Linked DNA regions of Homo sapiens: regions 1 and 3 are each reported to be linked to region 2. The links are microRNA targets in miRTarBase. Many come from high-throughput screens and were not tested one by one. Region 2 holds a microRNA gene; each other region holds the end of a gene's coding sequence.

Region 1 (7,193 bases), not on the chromosome of region 2:
ATTCAGCTCTATGACACATTTTAATTTTTGTGTATGGTGTGAAGTAAAGGCTTGAGTTAATTTTATTGGCATATGGATTCAGTTTTCCCAGCACCATTTGTTGAAAATGTTATTTCCCCATTTCTCCATTGAAGTGCCCTGTAAAAAATGTAAGTTTATTTCTAAACCTTCTATTCTATTTCACTGATCTAGCAGCTATCCTTAGGCCAATACCACACTATCTTGACTATTGTGACGTTATAGTACATTTTGATATCAGGCTGTATAAATTTTCCTACTTTTCTCAGCAATTGCAATTTTAAAAGACAATTTTGACTTTTATTTTACATTCAGTGGGTACGCATGAAGGTTACATGGATACATTGCATAATGCTGAGCTTTGGGGTGAAATTGATCTCATCACCCAGGTGACTATAGTATCCAATAGTCAGTTTTTCAAACATTGCCCTCCTCCCTCTCTCCCCACTCTAGAGTAGTGCCCAGTATCTATTGTTGCCATCTTTACATCCATGAGCATCTAATGCTTACTTCTCACTTATAAGTGAGAACATGTGGTATTTGGTTTGGTTTCTGCATAAATTCATTTAGAATAATGGCCTTCAGCTGCATCCATATTGCTGCAAAGGACATAATTATGTTGTTGTTATGGCTGTGTGTAATATTCCATGGCATATATGTATCATATTTTCTTTATCTAGTTTACCATTGATGGACACCTAGGTTGATTCCATGTCTTTGCTATTGTGAATAGTGCTGCAATGAACATACATGAATGCATGGCTTTTTTGGTAGAATGATTCATTTTCTTTTGGATATATACCCTGTAATGGGATTGCCAGGTCCAATACCAGTTCTAAGTTCTTTGAGAAGTCTCCAAACTGCTTTCCACAGTGGCTGAACTGAATGACTTACATTCCCACCAATAGTGTATTAGCATTCCCTTTTCACCACAGCCTCAGCAGCATCTGTTGTTTTCTTAAGTTTTTAATACTAGCCATTCTGACTGGCGTGAAATATATCTGACTGTGGTTTTGATTTGGTTATCTGATTAGTGATGATGAGCATGTTTTCACATTTCTTGGCCACTTGTATGTCTTCTTTTGAGACGTCTGTTCATGTATTTTACCCATTTTTCAATGGGGTTATTTTTGACTTGTTGAACTAAGTTCCTTATAGATTCTGCATATTAGACCTTTGTCAGGTGCATAGTTTGTGATTATTTTCTCCCATTCTGTGGATTGTCTGTTTACTCTGTTGATAGTTTTGCTTGCAGAAACTGTTTGTCTCACTTGTCAATTTTTATTTTTGTTGCAATTGCTTTTGAGGACTTAGGCATAAATGTTTTCCCAAGGCTGATATCCAGAATAGTGTATTCTAGGTTTTCTTCTAGGATCCTTATAATCTGAGATCTTACAATTAAATCTTTCTTTAATCCATCTTGAGTTTCATTCTTCTGCTTACAGCTAGCCAGTTATTCCAGTACCACTTATTGACTAGTGAGTGTTTTCTCCATTGCAATTTTCATCAACTTTGTCAAAGACCAGATGGCTCTAGTTGTGCAGCTTTATTTCTGAATTCTCTATTCTGTTCCATTCTGTGAAAAAATGACATTGGTAGCTTGATAGGAACAGCAGTGAATTTATAGATTGCTTTGGGCAGTATGTCCATTTTAATGATATTGATTCTTCCAATCCATAAGCATGGAACATTTTTCCATTGGTTTCTTTCAGTGTGTATTGTAATTCACCGTTTAGAGATATTTCACCTCTTTGGTTACATGCATTCCTAGGTAGTTACTGTGTGTGTGGCTATTGTAAATTGGATTGCATTCTTGATTTGGCTCTCAACTTGAATATTATTGATGTATAGAAACGCTACTGATTTTTGCACATTTACTTTGTATCCTGAAACTTTACTGAAGTTGTTTATCCATTTTAAAGCCTTTTGGCAGAGTCATTAGGGTTGTCTAGGTATAGTATCATGTTGTCAGCGAAGAGAGAGAGTTTGACAACTTTTTTCTATATGGATGCTTTGTATTTTTTTTCTCTTGCCTGACTGCTCTGGCTAGTACTTCCCTACTTTGTTTTTTCAAAACTGTTTTGGCTTTTCTAAGTCTTGCATTTCCATATAAATTCAAGGATCATCTTATTAAGTTCTCTAGAAAAGTTTGCTGGGATTTTGCACTGAATTTACTGGCCCATTTGAGAATTACCATCTTCCAATCCAAAAACATACAATGTTTCTTCATTTAGATCTTAATTTATTGGCAATGTTTTGTCATTTTTAATGTCTACAGTTTTATTTTTCCTAAATATTTTATTTGTTGATATTGTAATTTAAATTTTCCCACTTTCAATTACAGATTTTTCATTGCTTGCATATAAACATAGAATTGACTTTCATATACTTTTCATTCTGCAAGATTACTAAAGTCATTTATTAGTTCCAGAAGTTTTTGTGGAACCTCTGAGAATTTTCTACCTGAGACACTTGGTATTAACCTACTTTAAATATATCTGTTACATTTATAATGTAACTATGTCTAAGAAATATAGACAGAGAAAAGGGCATTTTAGGAGTTTGATAGGAAAAGGAGTTTAGCATAACTCCTTGATATCTGACTTATGTAACAAGATAAATTTCAGGGAAATAGCCTAGAGAGCACCAATCTGTGTGCAAAACTAATTAGTTCCACTTGAGATAAGTTAGAGGTACTTGCAAAGAATGGATCAAACCTGTTTTGATAACTAGAAGACATTAACTCAAAACTCAACACAAATTTGGTATTATAAATATAGCCAATGCAGGCCGGGCGCGGTGGCTCATGCCTGTAATCCCAGCACTTTGGGAGGCCAAGGCGGCAGGGATCACCTGAGGTCAGGAGTTCGAGACCAGCCTGACCAACGTGGAGAAACCCTGTCTCTACTAAAAACACAAAATTAGTCAGGCGTGGTGGCACATGCCTGCAATCCCAGCTACTAGGGAGGCTGAGGCAGGAGAATCACTTGAACCTGGGAGGCAGAGGTTGCGGTGAGCTGAGATTGTGCCATTGCACTCCAACCTGGGCAACAAGAGTGAAACTCCATCTCAAAAAACAAAACAAAACCAAAAAAAGCCAATGCAATTCAGGATATAATAACAAAAAAGTATGATATCCACAGGAGTAATGTATGAATACTTAATTTGTAGGCAATAGTTATCACATTCAAAGTCAATATTTGCAAGATGAAGCATAACTAGAAGAGGGAGACTAGAACAATAAAAAGCCATATCAAATGGGAAACTTAGTGTTTTGAGTTACTGGAACCAAAACTTCATCAAAGTCTGTTATACATACAAATGCCTTGTGTCTGTAGCTTTTGAGAAAATTGAAGAAAAAAGCCACAATACTATATTTGAATTAGCTTAGAGCATGTTTAGTAGTTAAGAGAATTTGAAATGCTTGCTTGGAGATGTTAAAGAAATATACCTTATGTCTCAACACATATAGGCAGTCATGGCTACTTACCTCTTACTGGTCTATTCATGCAGAAATTATTCAAAACTGGCAAGAGCTGCTTTTGTCTTCTAAGAACATAGCATAATGCTTATCAGTGAAAATAAAAAGTCAAACATTTGGAGAAAGGGAAAATTCAAAGTTCATGTCCATTTTCCTGGGGTACAAAGGATAGACAGAATTTTTATGATAGTATTATTTCTTTAGGAAAAAACAGGATACTAATTACATCATTTTTCCTTTATAGAAAATCCACCTATAAATCCAGGGATTGTATGAACACACCAAACAACCTTTGGTTCTGTTGCTCTTCTGAATCCCAATGTGATTAAAATGTTCCTGAGGTTTCCCTAACCACCAACTCAGGTTCTAAGTATTTAGGATGTAGTAAAGATAAAATTTTGTTAAAGAGACAGCTAAAGCTAATTTTTACATAGAAAAAAATGTATATTTATATCCCTAAAAGGCAATACAGAATTTATAACCAAACCATGTGTGAGAACTGTTAAATTACATTCCAAATACCAGCAGTGGAACAAACAGAAACACAGAGATGTTTTAAAAAACATGCAGCACGTTACAAAGAGGCCGTGTAATAATTCACAACTTTTGTTAGCAGCCGTTAAGTTTGATTAGTATTAAGCAGCAATGGTTTAAGCAATTTTAAATCATGATATGATAGTTACATATATGCATTTTACTGTTCCAATTATAGTTTAGTAATAGGTCAGGGGTTTGAGCAACATTTTAAGCATTATAATTTTCTCCTAAATTATTTACTATGGGAAATTGGCTTCCACTTAAGGTTTTCATAGAAACTGATGGTTATTTTATGAGGGAGATGTCTGGACGTATGTGTGTATGTGCATGTGTGTGTGTGTATATACACACACATATATAAATTAGAATTTGCAGATATTATGTGTATATATATACACACATATATAATATATATATTATATATATATATAATTTTTTAGTCATGTTTTTAGTCATTTGCTTTTTTTTTTAGTCATTTACCGGTTTCTCATAAGACATCCAGTCACTTCTTTTCCCTTGCCCTTTCCTAACACTGTTCCTAACATTTGGGTACCACCCCTTAGCTCCTGCGACCCATGTGGTTTTGGAGAAAGCTGATCACACTCACGGTGACAGGCCATGGTTGGAAGTAACATGTTCCACTTTTCACGAAAAGTAATAGATCTGAATATCATTCATGGTTAACAATAGATAGTGTGACATTTGGGTATGACCTGCTGGTAGAAATAGGGCATGATTCCCTGGAAGTAAGTCACTTACACCAACCCAAGTTCTAATTCTTTAAGATGTAGTAAAGACAAAATTGTTCTTGCTATATTAAAATGGAAGAAAGGATTTGCAGAGTTCAAGGATGATATGCTCTAGCTCTATATGCACTCCGCTATCAATCATTCCTTTTACTTTCTGCCTTGAAAAAATCATTTTAATAAAATCAAAAATTTTCATTCTAAAATATAGTTCAATGATTTCACTACCCTTTATGAACAAAAACAGCACGAATCCTCTAAAGAAGAAAATTGAGCCAAATTGTTATGTTTTGCCTAGATATTCACACAATATTTCACACCATAATAGAAAAAATAATTTTTCCATGAGAAGTCAAGAGACCTGTATTATATAATAGTTCAAACTTTTAAAAATTAACATGTACAATACACTGCAGTATAACATAATTTTTGTTGGAGGGGTAGATGAAGATAGTGGCTCAGTTTCCTTTGTGTAAAGCAAGTGAACTTGGTCGATTTAACTTAAAATTTCTATTAGCACTTAATATCTGCAAATTTTAATTTAGGGCTCAACATGTGGCCTTGCCATTTAAAAGAGCTATCAGCCTTAATAGCTAACACAAATTCTTTTATTTCAGTGTATTATATAGGAGAAACAAAAAATGCTATAAAATTCATGTTTCTAATGAACAAAAATGTTAAGGTTTATGACTATGCATTGTATAGAATTACCTAATATTTTTATATCTGAAGTAGACCTTTTGTAAGTACAGTACCTACATGTTTTTTTCATACATTCATACTTGCCTTCGCAGTTTCACATCTGTATAAATCTTATGATCGTTCTCTAATAAGTACACAAGATTAACACTACTTATGAAATATGGACAAATATATTACTACTCATTATAACCCATCCAGATTATTAGTTTAACTCATTCAATTACTACAAAGATCCTTACAGAGCTGAATTTAATATACAATAGAACATCACTGCCCTCTGATGGTATCACTAATATATAATTTTAAATTCAGCAAACAAAAAATCCTTTATCATAAAGTAAAACAGGGTATGTTAATTTTATAAGCTACATAAATAAAAATAAATTGGAAAAAATTTTACATCTGCCTAAGAATACTCATTACTAAGTTATAAAAATTTACAGTGCTCCTTCACATCAGCCCTTCAAATGATTTTTTCAAGATTCTCCCTGATGATCAGTTTAAAGGCACTAAGTCCATAAGTTTAATCAAACATCTTCATAGTGAAATAAAAACAGATGTAACGCGATGCAGCACAAATATAAGTAGTTAGATCATTTTATAAAGGATGAAAAGACAACTGCGAATTTTAATCTTAGAGGTATATGCAGAATGTTTACATGCAGTGTATGTATATTCACTATTTAGTTCCATTTTTTAACTACTAAGAAAAATAGCAAATCACCCACTAACTGCAGAAGAGCAAATGTAGGAAAATCAGTATTTAATGAAAAGTCTAGCCATTCTCTAAGCTTGAAAATCAACGTTTTTTTAGCATTGCACTTAAGGGCAATAATATTACAAAGTCTGAATCTTCATTTACTCAAAGAGAAGAAATTAAATTGATGAAGCCCACTTGATTGCAGATAATAAACAGTTATTGGCAGTAGATTCTTCTACTCATGTTATGCTTTATGAAACTGTCCACTAGAAAAGATAAAAAAGAGACAGAAAAGTAAATTTTACTTGAAGTTATATAACAGTACTTCAGTGAACAAACAGGTAAAAAGAGGAATATGGGACATAGAAATACAAAATGATTTTTCTGAATAGCAGCTATTCATAAAATTTTACATTATAGTCCAAAGCCTGAAATAAGATGATAGTTTAAAAGCATAAAGAAGACAAAATATCTGGTCAGATTGGTGGGTAGTTGCAGGATAGCTCTGTCTCACTGTCTTGCCTGTAGTTTTCAAGAGTAACTGTAGAATGTGCTGGGAATGTAACATCCTGGGATAGCAAATGAATGGCCAAGGACAGCTCAAGTTCTGTTCCAGTCCCTCCCTAAAGACAGGACGTCCTTCAATGCTTTAGCCCAAGGAGTCATGTAGTACCTCCCCTTCTAACCCCCAGGTCATAAAACCCAGGGCACTCATCTGAGGTTCAAGTGGGGCACACACAGATGTCATCAACCCCAGGCAGTTTTCCTTGGGAGACAAGCTTATAATGAATCCTAGGCTTCTGTTGTCCCTTGTTGCCAATCTGTAAGTAATAAACTCACTCCACGTTAAATGTTTTTGGTTTTGTTTTGGGATTTTCTTGAGACAGGGTCTCACTCTATCGCCCAGGCTGGGGTGAGGTGGGAATGGCTCACTGCAGCCTTAACCTCGCAGGCTCAAGTCATTCTCCCACCTCAGCCTCCCGAAAAGCTAGGACCACAGGCACATGCC
Region 2 (7,190 bases):
TGGTCTCCAGGGAGTGAGTCGGGAGCCCTGCTGGATTGATGCCCAGGGCCTGTGCGGCCGCCCTGGAGGCGGTGGCTGGGATAAACGTGCACCCAGCAGGACTCGCCTTGGCTCCGGGTTTTGCTTGTGCTCACATGTGGCACCATCCTTGGTTGCCCTCCTGGAGAAGGCATTCACGGCCTGGGGTGGGATGGCTGGGCTGTAGTTTAGCCTGGGCCTTGGGCCCCAGTGGGGGACAGGGCCTGTCTGCATGAAGTGGACCGGAGACCTGCAGACCCCAGGAAAGTGTCACTATGGGAGGGAGGGGCAGGCAGTCAGTGGCTGGTGCCATGGGGTGAAGCCACCATGGGCTGGGGGTGAAGAGCCGGCAGGAAGGGGACCAGTCACAGGGAGTGTGGACAGTCAGGGGTTTGCTTTCTGCTCCTGAGTTGGGGTGTGCAGCGTGGAGCCCACAGCCTGGTTCTGGGCCAGGGCACAGTGCCAGGGGCTCCGCTCTGACCTCCAGGAGGGAGACTGGGCCCGGGACCCCTGTTTTCTGCTCCCTGGACTGCCTAGCCCTGAGTGCCACGGATGACCAGCGTTCTGTTTTCTCTTCTCAATAACCCTATCTCTTCACACATCCCCAGGCCCAGTGCTTGCCGGCTGTGGTGACCCTGCCTGGTGCTGGAGGGCAGTATGGGAGGCACCAGTGTGCCCTGCTCACCCCATTAGTGTCATCCTGCCATCTTCTGTGTCCCCTTGGCCCTGGCACACACCCATGTGGCAAACACGGGCCGTGAGGCTCCCTGAACAGCTTCGAGGCGGGTGGGCTTCTGGAGCCCTCTTGGCTCTGAGGACAGCCACAGTGGGGTCAGACGTCAGGGATTGGTGCAGCCCCACGTCAGGGGTGATTGTCTTGACTTTCTCTCCATTTGAGTTCTGGGGTGGGTGGCTCCCTTCCCCCTTGCTTACAGGTGCTGTCCTGGGCACAGGAGGTACGCGCCTGGCTCTGCCACTGTTCTCTTCCCTCTGCTGCAAAGCCCAGTTAAGGAAATGTCTCCAGGTCCAAAGAGATAGGATGGTCTGGGCCCCACCTGTTGGAAGGGAACAGCCAGGGAAGAACCACCTGCCTGGGCAGGGCCTCGCCTGAGGGAGGGCCTGGGGCAGGGCACAAGGGGTTGATCTCAGCCCACAAGCCCCAGGGGCAGCCCAGGAAAGCAGGCGACGGATGTGGATCCTGACCTCCTGAGAGGTGTGAGGTGCAGGGATACCCACCTCTGCCTTGACGGCCGCGCACCCCTTAGGAAGTGGCTGTCCAGCGCCTGCCTGTGCTGGGCCTGGGAGAGGAGCTGTCTTGCCAGGGCTCCCAGGCAGGGAGAGGCAGGTGAGGTTCTCAGCCGATGTGTTAGAGGTTGAGCATCGCCTGTGCCCAGCTTGCTGGCTGTCAGTGCTTGATGTGCCCATCCTCAGCTAAAACCCAGAGCTGGCATGTTGGTCATCCCCACCTCAGACGGGACGCCCAGTCCAGAGCTGGTGAGCCCTGGGCCAGCCTTTGGGCCTGGCCTGCCCCATTCACCGGCCAGCGCCCCACCTCCCTGGCTGGAGGGTCGGGGAGGGGCTGGCAGAGATGGTTGGTCCACAGGGCTAGCCCTGGGTGGTGGGAGAGGGGCCCAGGGTCAGGGTGAGAGAGAGCTGGGCCAGGGAGCTGCTGCAGGATGATTTTGAGGTGTGGGGGAAGCACTCTTGGTTGGTTTTGGTTTGCTTTTTAAAAATTGTGGTAAAATACATAACAAAAGTAACTATCGTAACCTGAGCAGTTCTGTGACATGAAGTGAATTCACTGCTTTGTGTGACCTTGGCCACCATCATTCCCCACCACTCACTCCCGCTGGGCTCCCAGCCCTGCCCCACCATTCCGCTCCCTCTACAGCTATGGGTTTTACAAAGAAGGATGCAGGGCGCCCTGACTGCGGGGTGAGGGGCAGGCCTGCCCGCGGTGTGGGCATTCGCTGAAGGGGGACGCCCAGGTGTCTGCCTGAGTTACGGGTTGGGGGGTCGGGCATGTGGGGAGGGATGGAGTTGGAGGTGCATGCTCTCAGAGCTGGTAGGGGTGGCCCGTTTCGTCCCGTGTGTGAACTGGAGATGAGACCCGGCGCCTGCGATCCCGCAGACCGCGCCCGGCCGGGTGTCACTTGTGGGCGCACGCTGCCGGGATGCTGGGCCGAGCCCGCGGTTTAAGACCCAGATCTCAGCCAGGTCCCTTTCGCCGTCCGAGCCTCTGCACCTCGTGGGCTCCGAGCACATCCAGGCCAGAGACTGCGTTTGGGGCGTGGGCACGGGAGACCGTCATCAGCCAGGACGCTCTCGACCGATCCGGCCGCGCCCCGCCCAGCCTCGTAGCGCAGGCGCTGAGTCCAGGCTGACGCGCAACTCTGGGAGCGTTGCGGCACGCGGGGCCTTGCCTACTGTGGGAGGGGCTTCTGGGGGCGGGCTTCTGTCGGGCCAATTAGGATCGCCGCAGGGAAGGCACGCGCCGCGGCTGAGCAACAGGGGCGCGCGTCACCTTCTCTAGTTAACCCGCGCGGCCCCGGGCACAGAGCCCGAGGCTGCGCGGTCCCCGGCGGGCCCGCGGACCCCCCCCATCTCTGCGCCCCCCACATCTCTGCGGACCCCGCCTCGCCCCAGCCCTCCCATCCACAACCCTCACAACCTTGCATACCCCGCTACGCTCCCCACCGCGCCCTCACATTCCTGCAGACCCCGTCTCCCCACAACGCTCCCCGCCAACGCTGCGGAGCTCCGCGTCGCCCCAGCGCTCCCTGCCAAGCCCCCCACACCCCTGTAGACCCCGCCTCGCCCCAACCCTCCGAGCTGCTCCCCTTATACCCTTGCGGACCTAGTTTGTTTCGTCCCAGTCCTCCCCGTCGCGTCTCCCACATCCCTGCGGACCTCCCCGCGCCTCGCCTCTCCCTTCTGTTACGTATCACGCACAGGTGGATCCCACTACGACCCAGCTTGGCTCCTGTCCCGCACCTCCGCACCTGGCCTCTAGCCCCGCCCTCACTGTCTTGGGAAATGAAGCGGAGGGGTGGGCCGGACACTCTAGAAGCACCCTGGCTCGGAGCTTCCCTAGCTCGGAGTTGGTTTGGAGCCCAGGCTAGGGACCCAGGGTGGGCGCAGCAGGGGAGATTGGCACCAGAAGCGTGGAGGAAGGGCACCTCTTCAGCCCGGCTTTTCCGCCCCTGGAGTCTGGGACAGCTCCGGAGCGTCCGGGTACTCCCTCCCAGACTGGCCCTGTTCCTTTTATCACATTTATGTCACACACGTTTTTTCTAAATGGGTTTACACTTTTGCTATTACTTTGCAGTTCGGTTTGTGTGTGTGTGACGGAGCCTGGCTGTGTTGCGCAGGCTGGAGTGCAGTGGTGCGATCTCTGCTCACTGCAGCTTCCGCCTCCCGGGTTCAAGCGATTCTCCGCCTCAGCCCCCTTAGTAGCTGGGATTACAGGCGCACGCCACCACACCTGACTAATTTTTTTGTATTTTTGGTAGAGACAGGGTTTCACTATGTTGGCCAGGCTGGTCTTGAATTCCTGACCTCAATTGATTCGCCCGCCTAGGCCTCTGAAAGTGCTGGGATTACAGGCGTGAGCCACTGTGCCCAGCCTTTTTTTTTTTTTTTTTTTAACACGGAGTCTCATTCTGTTGCCCAGCCCGGCGCGATCCTGGCTCACTGCAACCTCAGCCTCCTGGGTTCAAGTGATTCTCCTGCCTCAGCCTTCCCAGTAGCTGGGATTACAGGCATGCACCAACACGCCCAGATTTTTTTTTTTTTTTTTTTTTTTTTTTTTTTTAGTAGAGACAGGGTTTTACCATGTTAGCCAGGCTAGTCTCGAACTCCTGACCTCACGTGATGTGCGTGCCTCGGCTTCCCAAAGTGCTGGGATTACTGGTGTGAGCCACCACGCCCAGTTTTTTTTGTTTGTTTGGTTTTTTTTGAGACAGAGTCTCACTCTGTCGTCCAGGCTGGAGTGCAGTGATGCTACCTCAGCTGACTGCAAACTCACTGAACCTCTCAGGTTCAAGTGATCCTCCTGCCTCAGCCTCCAGTTCCTGGCTAATTTTTTTAGTTTTCGTATAAACGGGGTTTCATCGTGTTGGCCAGGCTGGTCTGTAATTCCTGGCCTCAAGTAATCCACCCACCTCGGCCTCCCGAAGTGCTGGGATTACAGGCGTGAGCCACTGCGCCTTGTCTGCGCCCAGTTTTTGTTTGTTTTTTAAAGAGACGGGATCTCACTATGTTGCCCAGGCTGATCTTGAAGTCCTGGGCTAAATTTTTGTCACTGTGCCTGGCTAATTTTTGTATTTTTAGTATAAATGGGATTTCACCACATTGGCCAGGCTGGTCTCAAACTCCTGGCCTCGTGATCCACCTTCCTCGGCCTCCCGAAGGGCTGGGATTACAGGCGTGAGCCACCGCGCCTGGTCTGCGCCCAGTTTTTGTTAGTTTTTTACGGAGATGGGATCTCACTGTGTTGCCCAGGCTGGTCTTGAACCGCTGGGCTCAAATCATCCTCCTGCTTCTGCCTCCCAAAGTGCTGGGATTACAGGCTTGAACGACCATGCCTAGCCATAATTATCCAGCTATAAGGTCAGCTGATTAATTCGTCTCTCTATATAATAACATATTCACAGGTTGGGAGATTAAGATGAGAACATCTTTGGAGAGGACATTATTCTGCCTTTTAGAGAGAAGGGCCTAGGACAGGAATTCCCAGTGCTCAGGTTTAAAGGAAATATGATGTTCCCATCATCGGTACATGAACGTGCCCCTTTCTCTGCATTCCTACCAACACTGGATATTTTCCACTTTTGGGACTTTTAGCAGTTGTTGAGCCAGCCCATTTTACAGCGGGGATAATTGAGGTTTAAGGAGGGGAAATTACTTGCCTAAGATCTCATGCAACTTTCTGTTTCCTGACTCCCAGTCAAGTCTGATTCTCCCTTGGTATGGCTTATATGGGAGGATATTTACCTGGTGGCTTGGAAACCACTGAATGACTTTGTATCTTCCATCCATCCATGTATCCGCAGCCCAGCGAATGTATATTGGGAGCCTCAGACATGTGACCAGGGCCTTGTGGGCCAGAGGCAGCCAGGAGACCTTTTTTTTTTTTTTTTTTTTAAGACAGAGTCTCCCTCTGTCACCCAGGCTGGAGTGCAGTGGTGCGATCTTGGTTCACTGCAACCTCTGCCTCCCGAGTTCAAGAGATTCTTCTGCCTTAGCTTCCTGAGTAGCTGGAATTACAGGCGTCCATCACCATGCCTGGCTAATTTTTGTATTTTTAGTAGAGACGGGGTTTCACCATGTTGGCCAGGCTGGTCTCCAACTCCTGACCTCAAGTGATCCACCCACCTCACTCTCCCAAAGTGCTGGGCTTACAGGTGTGAGCCACAGCGCCTAGCCAGTGCTCTTGTCTTTTGAGAGCCCCCTTTTCTCTCACCTGATCTCCCTGCCCCCTATTTTCCCCTTTAGTCTCCTTTCCAGACGCTACTGAGTAGCTTCAGGGTCAGTCTAGAGATGCAATCCAGGTTGGGATCCTTGCTGGGAGAGCCCTTCCTTCCCTGGCTTTGTAACTCAGGGCCTTCTGGTGTGCACACCTGCAGGGTCCAGGCTGGGCCTGTGCTTCTAGCTTCTCTGTGTCTCTCCCTGAGATTGGAATCCTGGCTCTGTCCTCAACTAGCTTGAAGGGGGGCCCCCAGGAATGGCCCCTTCTGGATTTCATACCCTTGTGTAACCTTGTTTCACTTTTTAAAAGATTTTATTTAAAAAGTTTTTTTTTTGTTAGAGACAGGGTCTCACTTTGTTGCCCAGGCTGCTCTCAAACACCTAGCCTCAAGCAGTGCTCCTGCCTCAGCCTCCCAAAACACGCCCGTTCACTTTCTACCAGGGTTGTGTGTGACCAGCAGATGTGTTGGAAGTGATGGTGTGTCACTTCTGAGGTTAGGTCATTAAAGACGCAGCGGCTTCTATCTTGTGTGTGTTCTCTTTTTCTTGGGCCACTCGCTCTGGGGAAAGCCAGCTGCTGGGGCTTGAAAACACACACGCCTGGGAAGAGGCCGCACTGGTGAGGGACGGAGGCCTCCAGCCCACAGCTGTGGGAACGTGGGAATGAACCTTTTAGGAAGTGAATCTTTCGGCCCTGCTCTAGCCTTTAGATGACTCAGTCCTGGCAGCATCTTGATGGCAACTTCACAAGAGAGCCTGAGCCAGACCACCCAGCCTGGCCTCTCCTGGATTCCAGACCCGCAGGAGCCATGAGTTTCTTTGTTGTTTTACACATCAAAGTTTTGAGGCAATTTGTTACACAGCAGTATATAACTAATACACCAGCTGTAGGGCTTTGGGCACGTTCCTTAGCCTCTGCACCCCCGTTTCCTCCCTCGTGCCATGAGCATTGTAGAGGCGAGTGAGGAACACGTAGACGCAGCACAGTGCCACGCACATGAGGCAGCTTTCCAGCCCCTCCCGGGATGGTTGTGGTCATTTTCTTGCCCCTCCCTGGATGGACCGTGACCTCACAACGTCAGGCCAAGTTATTGCATTCTTGGCCTGAGGTCATCCATTGGCCATAGACAGAGGTTCTCGGCAGGAAAGGGTGAGATAAAGAGAGGGGTCAGTCTCTTTCCTCCAGCCCGGGTCGGGAGAACCGTGCTGGGCCAGGTGAGACATCCGCTGTCTGTGCGGTGTCCTGGGATGAGCCACTGGACCTGACCCATGGGGAGATTTGTCTGTGTCGCCAGAGGGCGAGGGGTTTCCTGGTCTAGCTTGCCTTGGGCTTGGCCAAGCATTCTGGCTGCCACTGGGGCCCCCAGGACAACTGAGAACTGTCCTTTCTTCTTTGACCTTCAGCTGCCCCTCTCTCCCCTGTCCCCTGGTGCCTGCTCAGATGCTTTCTTCTTGTGACCCTTGACCCTTGGCCCTTGGCCCCTGCCCCGAGGCTCCTCCACCCTGGGCTCCGTGTTCTAGAGTTCACTGTGTACTAGTTCCTCAAGCTGTTTGTCCTTCACTGCTTCCGATTTTTCTGTGCATTACTCAAGAACTGCATGGGCATGTGTCAGTATAAAAAAAAATAAAGTTGGCCGGGCGCGGTGGCTCACGCTTGTAATCCCAGCACTTTGGGAGGCAGAGGCGGGCGGATCACGAGGTCA
Region 3 (7,193 bases), not on the chromosome of region 2:
CTCGCCTATGAGCAAGTGGCAAAGGCCCTCAAATAAGCCCCTCCTGGGACTCCCTCAACCCCCTCCATTTTCTCCACAAAGGCCCTGGTGGTTTCCACATTGCTACCCAATGGACACACTCCAAAATGGCCAGTGGGCAGGGAATCCTGGAGCACTTGTTCCGGGATGGTGTGGTGGAAGAGGGGATGAGGGAAAGAAATGGGGGGCCTGGGTCAGATTTTTATTGTGGGGTGGGATGAGTAGGACAACATATTTCAGTAATAAAATACAGAATAAAAATCAAGTGTTTTTACGCAATGGGGATTTAAAGTGTGGGCGACATGGAATGAGGGGTGGGTCAGTGATCTTGAGCTCAGGGCAGAAGCCAGGAATTAAGAAGGGAAATGTTTGTGGTGGGGCTGCTATGTTTCGTGCCGGTCCGCCGGTCCGCCGTTGCGCTGTTCTGAGGTCTACGAAGCGTTTGCAGCCCCGTCGCCAGGGCCGGCCAGATCTGGGTGGGCCTGGGCAGCGCTCGCTGGGCGGTGCCGATTTCTGGCAAGGGGGGCGCAGTCTGGATGTAATGGGCGAGGCTTAGCAGGGCGGAATGGGCGTGGCCCGAAGAAGCCCCGCCCCGTCCCGCTTAGACAATGCCCCGGAGCCGCCAGACCGTCGCGCCCCTGCCCCATCGTAGTATATGAGCTCGCCTACACAAGGACCCGCGCTAAAAGCCAGAGCTCCCAGTCCCCGAGGCTTGAAGACGGGGACTCCCTTCTCCACCAACTCTGTCCTCGGGGGGTGGGGCCCCAGCCGAGATCACAGCGCGACAGGAGTGGGGGTGGCCGCTGGAGGTGAGTCTTGCGTGGGGGGCCCTGAACCGTGTGGGGGCCGGAGTTTGGGGGTGCCGGGCCCATGCCTGCACCAGACAGAGAGTATGGGGAGCCGGTATTTGGGCGCGGAGCTAGGCGGGGTGGACTTTGGGACATAGACGGGGAACCGGGTCCTGGAGCCGGGAGTAGTGCCAGCGCCCCGGAACCACGCCCCCTGTTACCCCGCCCCTCGCATTTCGTTTTAGACCTCTCCCAGTCCTTCGGGACTCGGTCTGGTTTATACTAGGTCGCGCTAGGGGCAGCGTGACCAGCCAGGGCGGAGAGAGGATGCTTAACTCCTTAGGCTCGAACTCCTCCCTTCCTACCCACCTCTCTCCCTTCTCGTTCGGGTATTCAGGACTTCCATTCCCCAGCCCCTGCCTCTCCAGCTTTCTCCTTCTGTCCCATAACCCCTGCGGGTCGCGGGCTGGACTTCCAGTCCCTGCGGTAGCGAGCAGCTGAGGGTTAAGGGGGCGGGGCTGCTGCATTTTTGGGGAGTGAGCGCATCCTAGTGGCTGCCAAGAGGGGCGCCCGACAGGGACCTCACAAGCCCCCAAGCAGGGGCAACAGGTGTTTTGGAGATTAGAGACCCTAGCCTTGTTCCTCAGGCTCCTCTTAAAGAATCTGACCCCTGAGGGTGCTGGGTAGAGTGAGGTCGACAGGAGCGGAAGGTCTGGAGTGGGTGGGGCGGAGTGGGAGGGACGCCTAGAGATGGCAGGAGGAAGACCTGGGCGCTCTTAACCACCCCCAACGCCCTTGTCTGCATGTCTTTTTCTCTGTCTCCTCCTTTTCTGTTTCTTCTCCCAGACAGGTGAAGAAACAAGAAAACTAAGAAATCCGAGCGGTTGGAGGGGGAGTCTGTGTGGATGGGATGGGGACGCCGGGGGAGGGGCTGGGCCGCTGCTCCCATGCCCTGATCCGGGGAGTCCCAGAGAGCCTGGCGTCGGGGGAAGGTGCGGGGGCTGGCCTTCCCGCTCTGGATCTGGCCAAAGCTCAAAGGGAGCACGGGGTGCTGGGAGGTAAACTGAGGCAACGACTGGGGCTACAGCTGCTAGAACTGCCACCTGAGGAGTCATTGCCGCTGGGACCGCTGCTTGGCGACACGGCCGTGATCCAAGGGGACACGGCCCTAATCACGCGGCCCTGGAGCCCCGCTCGTAGGCCAGAGGTGAGCGCCGTGGCGCGGGTGTGGTATGGGGAAAGGCAGAAGGAACTGGATGTCGGGGCTTTGGGGAAGAATTGAGGATGGGGGTGTCACAGCTCCGTGCCCTCTTCTCCTATCCTAAGGTCGATGGAGTCCGCAAAGCCCTGCAAGACCTGGGGCTCCGAATTGTGGAAATAGGAGACGAGAACGCGACGCTGGATGGCACTGACGTTCTCTTCACCGGTGAGGCTGGGGGGAGGCATAGGTCTTGGCACAGGGAAGTAGAGTTTGGGAGACTCGGCCGTCTGGAGCCTTGTTTCTAACTCACTCCCGCCCTCAAACCTCCGCGGCCTCCCGGACTCAGGCCGGGAGTTTTTCGTAGGCCTCTCCAAATGGACCAATCACCGAGGAGCTGAGATCGTGGCGGACACGTTCCGGGTGCGGAGCGGGACCAGCCTAGGGAGGGAGGGGGTGCAGGTGGGGGTCGGAAGGGCCTGGGCGCCCGCTGAGGAAATGAGAGGCAGAGAGCAGCCTATGTTTGAAGATACCCCATCACCCCTCCCGCGCCCCTGAATACCTCCCTTCGCTCTCCCTAGGACTTCGCCGTCTCCACTGTGCCAGTCTCGGGTCCCTCCCACCTGCGCGGTCTCTGCGGCATGGGGGGACCTCGCACTGTTGTGGCAGGCAGCAGCGACGCTGCCCAAAAGGCTGTCCGGGTGAGGAGGGGGCGGGGCCAACGAAAGTGGGCGCAGTTCTGGGCCCGGGAGGCCGGGAGCTGGGAGGCTTAGGAAATTAGCCCTAACCCCTGCCCTCAATGGGCTGTCCATCTTACATGAAAGAACACAGGAGAAAATAAGAAGTTACAACAGCAGGACTGGGAACAGGGGTGATTAATTTGCTCTTCCGGAGTTTCAGGAAACCCCAAAGGTGGCACCTAAACTGTGACTCTAAGGATGGGTAGGACAGATAGGAGGGGCTGGGGAAGGTAGGGGGTTGAAAATAACTGCATGTGATTCCAAGGTGGAAATTAGCAAAGGTAACTAAAGTACTTAGTGTCTGACATATCGTAAGCTCTATGTGCTTGCTGTCATTATTTTCCACAAATGTCAGTCCGTCCCCAGCCCTTAGTGGTGGTTGAGCAGGCAGACACAGCTGTGGAGAGGTTCTGAGACTCGAACACTTCCTCTTTCCTCTAGGCAATGGCAGTGCTGACAGATCACCCATATGCCTCCCTGACCCTCCCAGATGACGCAGCTGCTGACTGTCTCTTTCTTCGTCCTGGGTTGCCTGGTGTGCCCCCTTTCCTCCTGCACCGTGGAGGTGGGGATCTGCCCAACAGCCAGGAGGTGAGAGAGGGCAGGAACTCCAACACCAAGCACCATCAGAGAAAAGAGTTTCAGGCTTTCCTAGTGGGAGGAAGGAAGGGTACCTTCTCTAGAAGCCTGGGTGGGGCCACTCTGAGCTGGCTGGAAGAGTGGCCTGGCTCAGCCTGAGGTCTCACTCCCCTCTCCCCACTCCATGTCTTCCCTGTGCAGGCACTGCAGAAGCTCTCTGATGTCACCCTGGTACCTGTGTCCTGCTCAGAACTGGAGAAGGCTGGCGCCGGGCTCAGCTCCCTCTGCTTGGTGCTCAGCACACGCCCCCACAGCTGAGGGCCTGGCCTTGGGGTACTGCTGGCCAGGGGTAGGATAGTATAGGAAGTAGAAGGGGAAGGAGGGTTAGATAGAGAATGCTGAATAGGCAGTAGTTGGGAGAGAGCCTCAATATTGGGGGAGGGGAGAGTGTAGGGAAAAGGATCCACTGGGTGAATCCTCCCTCTCAGAACCAATAAAATAGAATTGACCTTTTAGACTGGGCTGTGACTGGTGTCTTACTGGGGCAAAGGGATAGGGCAGGGCTGAAACCTGAGTTTGGGGTCAGTGCAGGGAAGAAGGCCTCTTATTCAAAAATCTTGTTAGGTACTTATCAACTCATTGCCCAACCATGTCATAGGTACTTGAGCACAAGATGAACAAGACAGAATTTCTATCATGGGAAGTGTGTCCAGGGCAGAGAAAAGAGTGTATGGGTGGATTGCTCACTGAATTTATCTAAATGTTAGATGATTCAGAGACTGGTAGATTACCAGTCCACCCCTATTTGATAAAGAAAAAGAAATGACACTTCCAGGGACATTCATTTTCATTCATTCATTTAATGAGGCTTAGCAATGATATCAAAAGGGTCAGTCTCCTGACGTTGGGGAGCTCACAGTACATGCAAATTTCTTACAAATTGAAATACAGGTTGTCATGGAACAATTTACAGAAGGCTGTTTCTATGAGGGAAATAAAGGGGGTGCGCCCTAGGGCATCAAAGTATATGCAAGGGGTGGCCAAGGAGGGTCACCTTCCCAGAAAAGGCCATACTTGAACTAAGGATAAATAAGAATTAGCCAGGCAGATAGTGTGAAGGAGGGAAAGGGGTAATACAGGAAGAAGGAATTGCACTGGGCAAAGACATTTTGGGGCTAGGGAGAATTCTCTAAGGCTGGCATTTTCTAAGATGTGCATGTGGAATGACACAGGTAAGCCTGGAGAGTGGACAAAGTGCTGTAGTACCTTGTATCCAAAGCCAAGGCACGTGGGCACAGAGCTGAAGCTAAGGAGAGTACTTCAGTTCTGTAATAAGGGCTGTCAGGAGCAGTTATCTCTTGAGTAGGATCTCTCTGACTTCAGGGAGGAAAGCAAGGGTAGGAGGATGAGGTGGGGCTATGGGTAATCCAGGAAGGAAGTGAGCAGAGTACATTCACGTGGCAGCGCTGGGCATGGAATACAGTGTGGGTTTGACAGTGATGTTAAGATAGAAAGACTGGACTTCATGGCTCATTGTGTGGGAGTAAGAGAGAAAGGAGGTCTGCGTGACTCCCAGTTTCTGGGTTGGGCAACTGGGTTGTTAAAGAGAATACAGAGGAGAATTAAGTGAGCAGCTTCAGAGATGACAATGAGTTGGGTTTGACATTCAGAGTGCGAAATGCCTGAGGTCAGTCAGGCAGAATGTCTAAGTGGAAGTTTGTTAATCCCAAATCTGAGATCTGAGCCAGAGAGAGTTCTGAGTGTCATTTGCAGAGGAGGGGGCTGAGGACTGACTGTTGATGAGAGTGTCCCAGAAGAAGAGAAAGGGACAAACCTAGAATGGTGGGAAATACTGTAGGGATATGGAGCAAGGAAGAGGAGTCCAAAAAGAAAACACCAGCAACAAAGAAAAACAGCTTAAAGAATCAGGCCGGGCGCGGTGGCTCACACCTGTAATCCTAGCACTTTGGGAGGCCGGGGCGGGTGGATCACGAGGTTAGCAGATCAAGACCATCCTGGCTAACACAGTGAAACCCCGTCTCTACTAAAAATACAAAAAATTAGCTGGGCGTGGTGGCGGGCGCCTGTAGTCCCAGCTACTCAGGAGCCTGAGGCAGGAGAATGGTGTGAACCCGGCAGGCGGAGCTTGCAGTGAGGGAGATGGTGTCACTGCACTCCAGCCTGGGCAACAGAGCGAGACTCCGTCTCAAAAAAAAAAAAAAAAGGAGCTAGGGCTTGATTGGGTATAGAGAGGACACTGGTGGTGAGGGAGACATGGAGGTTATAGGAGAGATGGGAGTAAGTTTAGAAGTAAGACCAGTGGCAGAGACAGCCTGGAACCCAGGTCTCCCAACTCCCAGTCTAGCACTTATTTCTATACCATGGTGCCTTCCTCTTCCAGGTGAGGAACCAAGGAGGGGAGAGGGATTATGGGGAGCTGGGATCCCCTAGCTTGGGAGGTTTGGAGTAAGGGCTTCCCTTCAAACTACAACTGCATAGATGGTGGAGGCATCAGCAGGGTCCGCTGTGGACAGCCGGCGGGGCCTGCTGAGGGCTAGATGGTCCAGATCCGCATAGAGCAGGCTCTGGAGGAGGAAGGGGAGGAAGACAAGATGGTCTCCACAGTCTTCCTTGGGGTTCAGGCCTTTTTTTTTTTGGTCCATTTTCCTCAGAGATTCTGGCTATCCCCTTCCCATCCCCATGCCCTTACCGGTTCCTGGTCCAGGTCCCCTGGAATCTTGGGCTCTTCCTCCTTTACTGGCCTCTGGGGCTCGGTTTTCACAAGTGGAGCTATGTGGGGGGGACAGAGCTGAAGGATGGAGAGAAGGTGACCAACGTGTCTGCTCCCAGCAAGGGCTCAGACTCAGGAATTGAGGGGTGGGGAGTGGGCATGTAGGAGAAAGAAAATGGGGTGGAATTAGTCTCACCAAATCTAGGGAGTGGTCGAATCGGTTGCGGGGGCAGGCGCCTGTAAGGGACATATGAGTCTTTGAGAACCACCAGTCTTGTCTCACTGGTTCTCCTGGGACTCGCCACGCCAAGGACAGCCCAGCAACTTGAAGGCTCAGACCGGAAACAACTTAGACTCTACCCCACCGACAGTCCAGCCCAGGCTCTAACTCTGCTGCACTTCCAGCTCATCTGCTCTGGTGGGGCTCTACTCACCAGTCAGCGGCCTCGCTCCCACCTTTGACCTCTCCCATTCTTCGCCAAGCCAGGACCAGAGCTCTAGGTCTAGCTCTTTCTTTTGCGAAGGTTCTGGTCCTGCCCCTTCCACCTCTGGTCACTCCCCATTTAACGAGGCCGGGTCCCTCCTGCTCACCTGTGCAGCCACCAGACCAGGCCCAAAGCTCCCAGTCCGAGCACCAACCCAGCGCCCAGCAGCGGGATCAGGAGCTGGGGATACACGGACCCTGGGGGAAAGGCGTGGCGGGGAGGGATGCTGAGGTCAGGGGTTTGACGAGGGACAGCCAGCAGTCCCGCTCAAGAACCCCCAGCCAAGGCCCTCTTCCCTCCTCCGGGTATGTGTCGGAGTTAAGTACCCTTGTGCGCACAGGCCTGCACCTACCATGGGTAGGCCCGGGGGCCTTGCAATAGGTCCTGTCCCCCAGCACGTGAAGCACTGTACGGCTCTCGTCCTCGTGGCGGCCCTTGCAGAAAAAAGTGCCCGAGTCCCCCGCGCTCAAGAGGAGCTCCAGCCGCCGGATACCAGAGTCCAGGGAGCGTAGGCGGCCGACGAAAGGCTGGAGGGGAGGCACGGTGGGGGTCCCGCTCGAAGAGGCCCACAGGATCGGTCGGCGTCCTTTGGACAGGCCCTTGCAGGCCGGGAAGCTGGGTGCCCAGACCCAGCGGATGGGATGAGAGACTCCT

Evidence for each region. Region 2 holds the annotated microRNA hsa-miR-3178 (GGGGCGCGGCCGGAUCG, at 2,349-2,365, opposite strand). A microRNA usually pairs through its seed, bases 2 to 8, with sites in the 3' UTR of a target mRNA and lowers its output. Matches are read on the target gene's strand: a 7mer-m8 pairs with bases 2 to 8, a 7mer-A1 pairs with bases 2 to 7 and ends in A, and an 8mer does both.
Region 1: miRTarBase lists SVIP as a target of hsa-miR-3178. Seed matches in the 3' UTR shown: 7mer-m8 at 2,811-2,817.
Region 3: the mRNA of MPIG6B is a reported target of hsa-miR-3178. Seed matches in the 3' UTR shown: 7mer-m8 at 5,256-5,262.

Annotation. Positions count from the first base shown.
Region 1 is chr11:22,816,684-22,823,876 of GRCh38, forward strand. It overlaps SVIP (small VCP interacting protein), which reads right to left. Exons shown (of 4, transcript NM_148893.3): 4 at 2,244-6,450. The coding sequence ends at 6,436. Among named protein-coding and RNA genes, the nearest start is that of LINC02718, 9.1 kb to the right of the region's middle.
Region 2 is chr16:2,529,631-2,536,820 of GRCh38, forward strand. MIR3178 (microRNA 3178) reads right to left here and starts at 2,375; the gene lies at 2,292-2,375. AMDHD2 (amidohydrolase domain containing 2) reads left to right here. Exons shown (of 11, transcript NM_001330449.2): 11 at 1-1,787. It overlaps CEMP1 (cementum protein 1), which reads right to left and starts at 1,778. Exons shown (of 1, transcript NM_001048212.3): 1 at 405-1,778. The coding sequence starts at 1,443. The coding sequence ends at 700. RefSeq lists enhancers at 2,181-2,230, 3,009-3,710, 3,011-3,060.
Region 3 is chr6:31,723,685-31,730,877 of GRCh38, reverse strand. MPIG6B (megakaryocyte and platelet inhibitory receptor G6b) reads right to left here. Exons shown (of 6, transcript NM_138272.3): 2 at 6,892-7,193; 3 at 6,646-6,736; 4 at 6,251-6,291; 5 at 6,034-6,113; 6 at 4,164-5,908. The coding sequence ends at 5,804. It overlaps DDAH2 (DDAH family member 2, ADMA-independent), which reads left to right and starts at 1,579. Exons shown (of 6, transcript NM_001303007.2): 1 at 1,579-2,013; 2 at 2,133-2,232; 3 at 2,354-2,427; 4 at 2,586-2,705; 5 at 3,186-3,335; 6 at 3,525-3,838. The coding sequence starts at 1,717. The coding sequence ends at 3,641. CLIC1 (chloride intracellular channel 1) reads left to right here. Exons shown (of 6, transcript NM_001288.6): 6 at 1-279. The coding sequence ends at 36.